2 separate regions of the Homo sapiens genome follow, and region 2 is linked to region 1. The links come from fine-mapping of genetic effects on gene expression. A gene starts in region 1. The other region holds a variant in brackets. All regions are shown on one strand. Distances are between the middles of the regions.

The links. PIP is the estimated chance that this variant, and not a neighbour inherited with it, causes the effect. A credible set is the group of variants that fine-mapping cannot tell apart.
Region 2: its variant is the best candidate, but not a certain one, in a credible set for the expression of DLK2 in whole blood (INTERVAL, PIP 0.52).

What each region holds. Positions count from the first base shown.
Region 1 is chr6:43,453,346-43,458,715 of GRCh38, forward strand. It overlaps DLK2 (delta like non-canonical Notch ligand 2), which reads right to left and starts at 2,203. Exons shown (of 6, transcript NM_023932.4): 1 at 2,050-2,203; 2 at 1,405-1,535; 3 at 1,066-1,129. The coding sequence starts at 1,480. RefSeq lists enhancers at 1,182-1,231, 2,860-3,701 and silencers at 1,762-1,841, 1,872-1,921, 2,022-2,261.
Region 2 is chr6:43,358,781-43,364,150 of GRCh38, forward strand. All of the region lies in intron 2 of ZNF318 (zinc finger protein 318), which reads right to left. It also overlaps the pseudogene RPS2P28. Among named protein-coding and RNA genes, the nearest start is that of ZNF318, 8.2 kb to the right of the region's middle. The variant C/A (reference allele first, on the strand shown) is at 2,510.

The sequences.
Region 1 (5,370 bases):
ACTTTAACCTGAGCCTCAGTTTTCTCACCTGTAAATTGGGGATACACCTTGCAGGGTTGAGTAGAGGAAGAAATAAGATGTCTGTAAATGCCTCCAGTACCCCTCCTGGCATGTCTGAGGTGCTCACAAACATTTAAAGAAGAATGACCTTGAAAGGCCATCAGGGCCGGGGCGTGGTTGCTCACGCCTGTAATCCCAGCACTTTGGGAGGTCGAGGCAGGTGGATCACTTGAGGTCAGGAGTTCAAGACCAGCCTGGCCAACTGGGTGAAACCCCGTCTCTACAAAAAATACAAAAAATTACCCGGGCATGGTGGTGTGCATCTGTAATCCATTATTGAGGAGGCTGAGGCAGGGGAACTTGAACACAAGAGGCAGAGGCTGCAGTGAGCTGAGATCGCGCCACTGCACTCCAGCCTTGGCAACAAAGCGAGACTCTGTCTCAAAAACAAAAAATAAAAATAAAAACAAAAAAGGTCATCAGGACTATCCTCCCACCATGATTCCAGGGCAAACACTTGACCCATATTTTAAAAGCCCTCCAGGGGTGAAGAGTCTCAAAGACCCCCAGCCAATTGAACTACCTGCCTCATCAACTCATTTCCTTATGTCCACTTTCCTCCTGCTACAGAATTTGCCCAATCTCCCAGTGAGTCAACTACTCAAACTCATCAAGAAAGATCCTCTTTCATTGTAAGTGTTTCTCCCCAGCAACTCTCCCTGCAGCATTTCTTTTCCAGGCTAAACCATTTCTCTTTCCCTTTTTCCTTTATCTTTCCATTTCCTCATGGCACCCAATCCCCAAGCTCTCTCAAGCTTTAGGTCTCTCTCCCTGTCAGGAGTTCAGACAATCCCTGGATCAGACTTGGGAGATTAAAGAAGTGGGGAGATAAAAACTAGAAGAAGCAAGAGAGGTGAGGTAAAGGGGAAAGGGGGACTGGCCAGTCAGCCATAGGAGTGATGAGGCATGAAGAGTAGAGTCTGAAGCCCCTAGACACTGTTGTGCACGTGAAGGGCTTAGAAATGGGTACCAAAGGGTTTGGGGGCACGTGCTCAGGACAGGTACCTGCAGGAGCCGTCAGGTGCACAGCAGCCGTGGGCCAGGTCACAGTGGGAGCTGCAGTCATCGGCTGCAAGAGATTGATGTGGGAGGGGTGAGTCTGAGTCAGGGCACAGCTCGCTGGGATGCGGGACTCAGGAGAGGATTGGGGTTCCAGTAACTGAGCGGACTCAACCCTAGGGCAGGACATAACACAGAAACTCATCCCATTCCAAAAAGGCAACCTCGGTCTTGCTTGCCCCGCGGGTCGGAGCGACTGCAGTGCCGCCTCCGGCCGGCAGAGGTCAACGTGCAAGCGAGGACGGCTGGACAGGGCCGCGACTGGAGCCCAGCGGGCGCGCTCACCTCGGACAGGCTGACCGGGAGCCCCCAGAATGCACAACAGGCACACGAGATGCAGGCAGCGGCAGCCGCTGGGCATGGTCAGCGCCGGCCCCAGGAGGGACGGACGGATGGACGGCCGGACGCGTGGACACCTGTGGGACGGCACCGGTTGGGAGGCGGCCGGACGCGGAGATAGCGGCACGGATACGGGTTCCAAGTGACAGGAGCCGACGAGGGAGAGGGGCGCCGGGACAGAAGAAGGGGATGGGGGTAGCGGGAGGATGGGGGCAGGGAAGGGTTGAGCAGGCGAAGAGAGCGAGGAGAGCGAAGACAGGAACCCGGGAGCGGGGTCTGCAAGGAGGGGAAAGATGGGCATCGCGGAGCGAGGCCAGGCGCGGGAATGGCTGGGGTTGGGATCGTAGTCAGGACGGAGGGGTCCGCGGGATGGGGACAGCGCCGAGAGGCGGCCTCGAGCACGGAGGGGACGCGGGGGCCGGAGGGAAGGACGGTTCCCGGCAGCGAGCAGTCTCCGCCCCACAGCTCCGACAGCCCCCCCCCCCGCCACCACCACTCTCTCCCACGTCCCCTTTCTATCTCCGCCGCGCTGGGTTCGGCGGCGGCGCGGGGCCTGGAATCCCCACCGCGCCCTGTCCCCGCAGTCCTCACCTCCGGCGGGGAGGTGGCGCGCCCCGGGGCGCAGAGAGAGGCCGGATCCGACGGGCGCCGCCGAGGGGCCGTGAGGGAGCGCGGGGCCGCCCCTAGCTGGCCGCGGGGCCGGGCGCCGAAGCGGCTGCCATGCGAGCCGAGCGCTCGGGAATCTGGGGCTCCAGGCGACCCCGAGCGGCGGCAGCGGCTGCTCCTCGCGCGCGCTCAGGCCCCCTGCCAGGGGCGGAGCCCGCCCCCACCCCCATCCCCCCCCCCGCGACGCACGGCGCACACCTAGCACCCGGCGCGCCCCGGGGCCCCGGCCCTCCGCGGCTACCCAACGCCCCGAACCCAGCTTCCTTCCAAGAGAGGAGGAAATCTTAGGAGTCTCAATGGGAGCAAACTATTAAGCCAAAGGAGCGCAACCCCGTTATTCTCTCATCTCCCATGCCCACTTTCCCGACCAGCGCTCCGCGGCCCACGCCCCAGCCCTGCCTTCGCTTGTCCGCCGCTCATCACGCTTCTCATATAGATCTATGCACACGCAGGCAATCGCTCCCCGCCCTCCGCCTGTCACCAGCCCACGCCTCCCCGCTTGTAAAGCCTTCATCACCTGCTTCATCTGTGTGCTCCTCTGCTCCTCCTCGCCCTCCGCTTCTTCCTGTCCACGTTGCCGTCTCCAGCCTTCCAAGATCAACCTATCCCTATATAAATATCAACCCGATCCACCCAACCACACCCCGGCCCTACCCCCACCACCCTTCCCTCCCTCAAGTCTCAGCCCTTCCACCCCATTCCTTTTTGTGACTGCCTCTGAGAATCCTTTCTGGACTGGGAATGCCCCTGACTCTGTAAATGTGCACACAAAACCCCCTCCACCGCCAAGTCTTCTCCTGTACCCCATCACGTTCGTCCTTGGCCTCAGGCTAAACCTCAACTGCCCAAACCTGGAGCTCAGATTCAGAGAGTAACGGAGGGGGAGTGGGGGAAAGCTGCCCTCCAGGCCTCTTTGCCCCCTTCTGGCTAATGGCTCAGAGACACATTTCAAGACAAGGACCCAGCCAAGCTCGGTGGGCTCACGCCTATAATTCCAGCACTTTGGGAGGCTGAGGCGGGCGGATCACCTGAGGTCAGGAGTTCGAGACCAGCCTGGCCAACATGGTGAAACCCGTCTCTATTAAAAATACAGAAATTAGCCAGGCGTGGTGGTGCGCGCCTGTAATCCCAGCTACTCGGAAGGCTGAGGCAGGAAAATCGCTTGAAAACCCGGGAGGCAGACGTTGCAGTTAGCCAAGATCGCGCCACTGCACTCCAGCTTGGGGGACAGAGCAAAACTCCGACCCCCGCCCCCCCCCAAAAAAAGACAAGGACCCAGAACATAATTTCTAGTTTGTGCAGGACAACAGGGCAGAGGTCAGGAACGCTAGCGCCCATCTCTAGTCCTTCAGATTGAGATTTCACCATCTTTAAATTCAAAACATCGGAAGGAGCAGTCGCTAGTCGGGGCAGAGCAGCTTCCCACCTTCACACAGCCACCTCCACAGGCACAGAGCCCCAGGGCTCATTTTTCCTGCAGTCTCCATTGGATATAACACTTACACCCACTCAGCTCCCTAGCTGGCCTCCTCTCAGCTGTGATCGCCTCTTCCCTGAAGAGCTCTCTGAATTTGAGTAATGACATGGCTGTACCATTCATTTTGTTTAAACACATTTTTTTTTTTGGTGAAAAATTGCAAACAACCTATAATTCAAAAATTACTGTAGGCAAATAAATTATGGCACATCAACACTATGTGACTGTTAAAAATACTTTTTTTTTTTTTTGACGTCTAAAGATGTCCAAAAAAGCTAAGAATATGTAAAGTGCGGTGGGGGGAAGCCGGAAACAAAGAAGAACGTACTTTGACATTGGCAGTGCTTTTCTCTGGATGATCGAATTATAGAGGTTTTTTTTTTTTTCTTATTAATACTTTTCAGCATTAACACTTTTTTTTTTTTTTTTTTTTTTTTTTTTGAGACGGAGTCTCGCTTTGTGGCCCAAGCTGGAGTGCAGTGGCGCTATCTCGGCTCTCTGCAAGCTCCGCCTCCCAGGTTCACGCCATTCTCCTGCCTCAACGTCCCAAGTAGCTGGGACTACAGGCGCCCACCACCCCGCCCGGCTAATTTTTTTTTGTATTTTTAGTAAAGACGGGGTTTCACCATGGTAGCCAGGATGGTCTTGATTTCCTGACCTCGTGATCCGCCCGCCTCGACCTCCCAAAGTGCTGGGATTACAGGCGTGAGCCACCGCGCCCGCCCCTTTTTTTTTTTTTTTAAACAATGAACATCTATAACTTGTTTTTTGTTGTTGTTTGTTTGTTTTTCCTTGAGATTATCACTCTGTCGCCCAGGCTGGAGTGCAGTAGTGCAACCTCAGCTCAGTACAACCTCGTCTCAGCCTCCAGTATAGCTGGAATTGCAGGCACAGCGCCACCACGCCCAGCTAATTTTTTTTTCTCGAGACTTTCAGTGCTTTTCTCTGTCAGATATCATTATCTGACATTATATTAAATATTTATTGTTTATTGACCATCTCCCCACTACAAAGCAAACTCCAGAGGTCTGGGATGTTTTCTTGCTCATCACAGCATCCCCAGTGTCTAAAACAATGCCTGGCATAGTAGGTATTCAATAAATTTTTTTAAAATTCTGTTTGTTTAATTAACTCTTTTTTTTTTTTTTTTTTTTTGAGACAGGGTCTCGCTCTGTCACCCAGGCTGAAGTGCAATGGCTCCATCTTGGCTCACTGCAACCTCCGCCTCCCGGGTTCAAGCAATTCTTCTGCCTCAGCCTCCCGAGTAGCTGGGATTACAGGCGCGCCCCCACCAAGCCAGGCTAATTTTTGTATTTGTAGTGGAGACAGGGTTTCGCCATGTTGGCCAGGCTGGTTTACAACTCCTGACCTCAGGTCATCTGCCCGCTTGGCCTCCCAAAGTGCTGGGATCACAGGCGTGAGCCACTGCCCTCGGCCTGCCCAGTTAATTTTTGCATTTTCAGTAGAGACGGGGTTTCGCCATGTTGGCCCGGCTAGTCTCGAAGTGACCCCAAGTGGTCCACCGGCCTTGGCCTCCCAAAGTGCTAGGGTTACAGGCATGAGTCACCGTGCCCAGCCTAACATTTTTTTAGAATAAAGTAAAAAGAAAAAGGCCAGGTGCGGTGGCTCACGCCTGTAATCCCAACACTTTGGGAGGCTGAGGTGAGAGGATCATGAGGTCAGGAGATCGAGACCATCCTGGCTAACACGGTGAAGCCCCGTCTCTACTAAAAATACAAAAAATTAGCTGGGTGTGGTGGCAGGCGCCT
Region 2 (5,370 bases), 95 kb before region 1:
CCTGATCTCAGGTGATCTGCCCGCCTCAGCCTCCCAAACTGCTGGGATTACAGGCGTGAGCCTCCACACGTGGCTCAGATAAATGGTTTTAAAGCTGTGTTCCAGAGGTTGTAAAGAGTGCTCAGGAGCTACCAAAAGAAAGGAGGTACTAGAAAAGCAGAACCAGCAGGGCTCTTGACCTTCTATCCCAGTTAAATCACACTAATTCCAACTTTAAGTCTGTATATTAAGGTTCTAATAATTCAATTGGGAAAAAAAAGTATCACTATATGGTAACTTTTAAAAAAACTACTGATTTATCTAATTAGCATGATTTTCTCATAAGATTTAGAAGGTTCTCCAATGCTTTGCCTTGATGGTTCACATATTAAAACCCATAAAGCTCTCTCACAGCCTGTTTTGTCACCCTCTTTGCCTTCTCTGGATATCTACAAGCACTCTGCTAATCTTGGGCTTAGAAAAGAGAAAGTGATGGTTTGGTTCACCATATATTTTTATTTCATTAAATACAAAGGTCTCAGACCTTTGTGGCATGAGGTAAAAATCCAGGATGGGACAGCTATTCTTTTAGCTGAGAATTCTATACCACACCCAATAATGCTAACCTTCTCAGGGGCTATGGCTATGACACAAAACTAAAGTTTCTGATTTAAATCACAGATAGAAATAAAGATCCTCTAGCACTTTATGTATGAAAACTTCTAAGTACTCTGAATAAAAAATAAAAGTTCTTACATGTCACTCACATTCCAGAGTGAATTATCATCTAGAGGATGGTAACTATTAGTGTCTTCTACAGTTTCTAGTAGCTACTTTTGTTGTGAGTTTCTAGAAATGACTTTTCCTTAGTTTTTTTAGTAGTTGCTTTCCTATCTCTGAGACTATGCCAGCAGAATCTCAAAACATTGCCTTTTCTTATTCACCAGCCTGCCTTTGATCAAAGTTGTAGACCTAGGAATAAATTTATGAAAGGTTATCAAGGACAAACTTTATTTACCTTCTCTAACAAGAATGCCACCTGTGGGAATCCAGGTTTCTGTTACCCACCTTCTTCCTAAGAATTTGGGAAATTTTGAGGTTTCAATGCAGTATGAAATAGGAATAAATGGGAATAAACCAAGGATGATTTCTGAAATCAAACTGAGGTAAAAATTTTTCTCTATAGGTCTGTCAGCCATAAACACACCTATTTCCAGAGAGGAATGTTCATGAGTTGAGTCACTCCATTGCCAAAACACCATCTACCATACAAAAAGTCTCTGACCATATTAGTATAGGGAGAAAAAACATAGGCTCCATGAGGAGTGGCAAGTTCATTCACACTCCCACATTCAGCTCCCCACCAGAACTATTACATGTCACCATGAAACGGCATACTAGCCCAAGGTCTAAACCAGTACTAACTATCAAGAAGCTACAAATGAGATGGCTCTCAAAAAGCTGTAGTCCAGACTTGGAATCTCCAGTAGAGACAGAAAAAAGGCATAAAAACAGTTTTCTTAAAAAAGCTATCACATACATATAGGCAGAAATCAGGTTGCTTATTAGAAGCTCATGTCCTCCTTCCCCAGGACTCCAAAAGGATATGAGAAGAGAACTGGCTGTAGTAAGAACCCTAAAAAGGGTACAATCTCCTATACCCTGAAAGAGTCCAGCGATGGATACTCCCGGAAAGCCTTGGTTAAGTTCAACTGTTTTCTAAAATAAAGTCTATCTATTTAAAAAAACTGATTGTTGGAGTTAGGTAATAAGGACATGGGGTTTCACTGTACTATTCTACATTTTTGTGTTTACAAATCTCTGTTAAACAAGTTTTTAAAAAATGTATGTATGTCCATATAAAAACTTTTATACCAATGTTCAGAGCAGCATTAATCATAATTGCCAAAAAGTGAAAAGAATCAAAATGTTATCCATTCATTCACCACTGATGAATGGATAAACAAAACATGGTATATCCATACAATAAAATATTATCAGCAATAAAAAGGAATGCTACAAACACGGATGAACCTTAAAAAAAAATATGCTAAGTGAAAGAAGCCAGTCACAAAAGACCACATATTATATGATTCTATTTATATGAAATGTCCAGAACGGGCAAATCTATAGAGACAGAAAGTAGATTAGTGATTGCCTATGGCTGGGGGTAGGGTGGAGGGAGTAATGGCTAAAGGAACAGAGCTTCTTTCTGGTGTAATAAAAATGTTCTAAAATTGATTGTAGTGAGGGATGCACAACTCTGAATATGCGAAAAATCACTGAACTGTACACTTCAAATGGGTGAATTATATAGTATACAAATTACATCTCGATAAAGCTGTTAAAAATGTATACATATTTTAAAAGGTCCTTCAGAGCCTAAACTCTCCATTCTTTTCTGTTGATGAGTCCCAAAAATGCCCCAAGAAAGCTGTTTGCTTCTATTCCCTAAAGAAAATCAGAGGGAAAAAAATCCCACTCCTTCAATCTGTCAGAATAAGGAGAAGAAATTAGGCGATAAGCTGGG[C/A]ACAATGGCTCACACCTGTAATCTTAGCACTTGGAGAGGCCAGGGCAGAAGGATTGCTTGGGGTCAGGAGACTAGCCTGGACAACACAGATAGATAGAAACCCAATTTCTAAAAATTTATTTTTTAATTCACCAGGTGTGGCAGTGCAGCCCATAGTCCTAGCTACTCTTTAGACTGAGCTGGGAGGACCACTTGAGCCCAGGAGTTTGAGGTTACAGTGAACTATGATCACGCCACTGCACTCCAGGCTGGGCAACAGAGCAAGACATTGTCTTTTAAAAAGTTAATAATTTTTTTTAAATAAATAGCTCCATGAATGGAACATTAAATGTGCAAATTACTTTGATGAACAGGAGAAATCAACCTAACATCCACAAGTCTTTAGAAGCCAAGTGTTTTAGAATTTTTCACATTACCTTTCATGTTCCCTTTTGAGTAGAATTACAGTCCTACATACAGGGCTGCTAAGGTGAAGACACTAAAACCCAACTTGGCTATCATCCAAACCTGATATAAAACTTAACAGATTCAATAAAGGAAGAGAAAGACTACTAGAGTCTCAGAAAAAAAATAAACAAACATCTGGCCAGGCATGGTGGCTCATGCCTGCAATCCCATCACTTTGGGAGGCTGAGGCAGGAGGGTCACTTGAGCTCAGGAGTTTGAAACCAGCCTAGGCAACACAGTGAGAACCCCATCTCTACAAAAATTTGAAAAATTAGCTGGGCGTCGGGTGGTGTGTGCCTGTATTCCTAGCTACTTGGGAGGCTGAGGCAGGAGAATCACTTGAACCCAGGAGTTAGAGGCTACACTAAGCTATGATCGTGCCACTGCACTCCAGCCTGGGTGACAAGAGTGAGACCCTGTCTCTTAAAAATAAATTTAAAAGGGGCCAGGCGCGGTGGCTCACACCTGTAATCCCAGCACTTTGGGAGGCCAAGGTGGACGGATCACGAGGTCAGTTCGAGACCAGCCTGGCCAAAGAAACCGCATCTCTACTAAAAATACAAAAAATTAGCCTGGCATGGTAGTCCGCACCTGTAATCCCAGCTACTCAGGAGGCTGAGGCAGGAGAATTGCTAGAACCTGGGAGGCGGAGGTTGCAGTGAGCCGAGATTGCAGCATTGCACTCCAGCCAGGCAACAGTGCAAGACTCTGTCTCAAAAAATAAATAAATAAAAATAAAAAAATAAATGAATTTTTAAAAAATAAACATCTACATACACGTCTTTTTTTTTTTTTTTTTTTTTTTGAGACAGAGTCTTGTTCTGTGCAGTGGCACAATCTGGGCTCACTGCAAACTCTGCCTCCCAGGTTCAAGCTTCTCCTGCCTCAGCCTCTGGAGTAGCTAAGACTACAGGCATGCGCCACCACTGGGTAATTTTTGTATTTTTGGTAGAGACAGGATCTCATCATGTTGGCCAGGATGGTCTCGAACTCCTGACCTCAAGTGATTGGCCCACCTCAGCCTCCCAAAGTGCTGGGATTACAGGTATGAGCCACTGCGCCAGGCCCAAACATCTACATACAAAGGATATAAATGGCCTGTATCATTGGTTGAAGACTAGACTCACTGTCAGGAGACAACCTGAGTATGCCAATGGTCCTGTGGCCTGGTTTTAGTGGACAGTAATTATCCACACAAACCATACTGAACAAAAGGGAAAGAAGAGAAATGTGTAGGGGGCAACAGTATTTTTTAAATGGCCTTGTATCTTTGTTTAGAACCTTAATCTCACTTTCTCTAAAGTAGACCTGTGCCTCTGAAACACATGATTCTACAAAGAAGACTGCTGCCCCAAACTCCTTAAGAGGAAAAATTTTAATTTTTGTAATTTAAAAATATAATTAGTTCTATCTGAAGCACATGTGCATAACAAAGTTTATGCAAAGGGGAAGTGACATCCTAGGCCTAAGAAGAACTGCTGAAGCTAACTCAAAACCTCAGCAAAGAATGAAGACAATCACACTATGTACCACCTACCCAGACTACCTACTCAATAATTTCCCCAAACAGAAGCAGCCAGAAGAGCAAGGGCTATTGCCTCAATTAAGTGATACAGTCACATATCTTGAAGCCCTTTAGAAGCTTCAATGTTATATGACATAAGACTATTTTGCCTTGCTTCTTCTCTGAGAAAACACCAAATGGCAGATGATGTCGGTGGAGGGGGTGGGGCGGGGGCAGAGGCCCCGGGGGCCCTGGGATGGGAAACCGTGGTGGCTTCCATGGAGGGGCTGGGGTTGCAGCTGTGGACAGGGCTGAGGCCACGGAGCTCGTGGAGGCAAGGCCAAGGATAAGGAGTGGATGCCTGTCACCAAGCTGGGCTGCTTGGTTAAGGACATAAAGATCAAGTCCCTGGAGAACTACCTCTTCTTCCTGCCCATCAAGGAATCTGAGATCACTGACTTTTTCCTGGGGGCCTCTCTCAAGGATGAGGTGTTGAAGATTATGCCAGTGCAGAAGCAGACCCACACTGGCCAGTTGAAAAGGTTCAAGGCGTTTGTTGCCATCGGGGACTACAATGGCCACGTCGGTCTGGGTGTTAAGTGCTCCAAGGAGGTGGCCACTGCCACCTGCGGGGCCATCATCCTGGCCAAGCTCTCCATTCTCCCTGTGCACAGAGGCTACTGGGGGAACAAGATCCACAAGCCCCACACCGTTCCTTGCAAGGTGACAGGCTACTGCGGCTCTGTGCTGGTGCACCTCATCCCTGCGCCCAAGGGCACTGGCATCGTCTCAGCCCGTGCCCAAGAAGCTGCTCATGATGGCTGGTATTGATGACTGCTACACCTCAGCCAGGGGCTGCACTGCCACCCTGGGCAACTTCGCCAAGGCCACCTTTGATGCCATCTCTAAG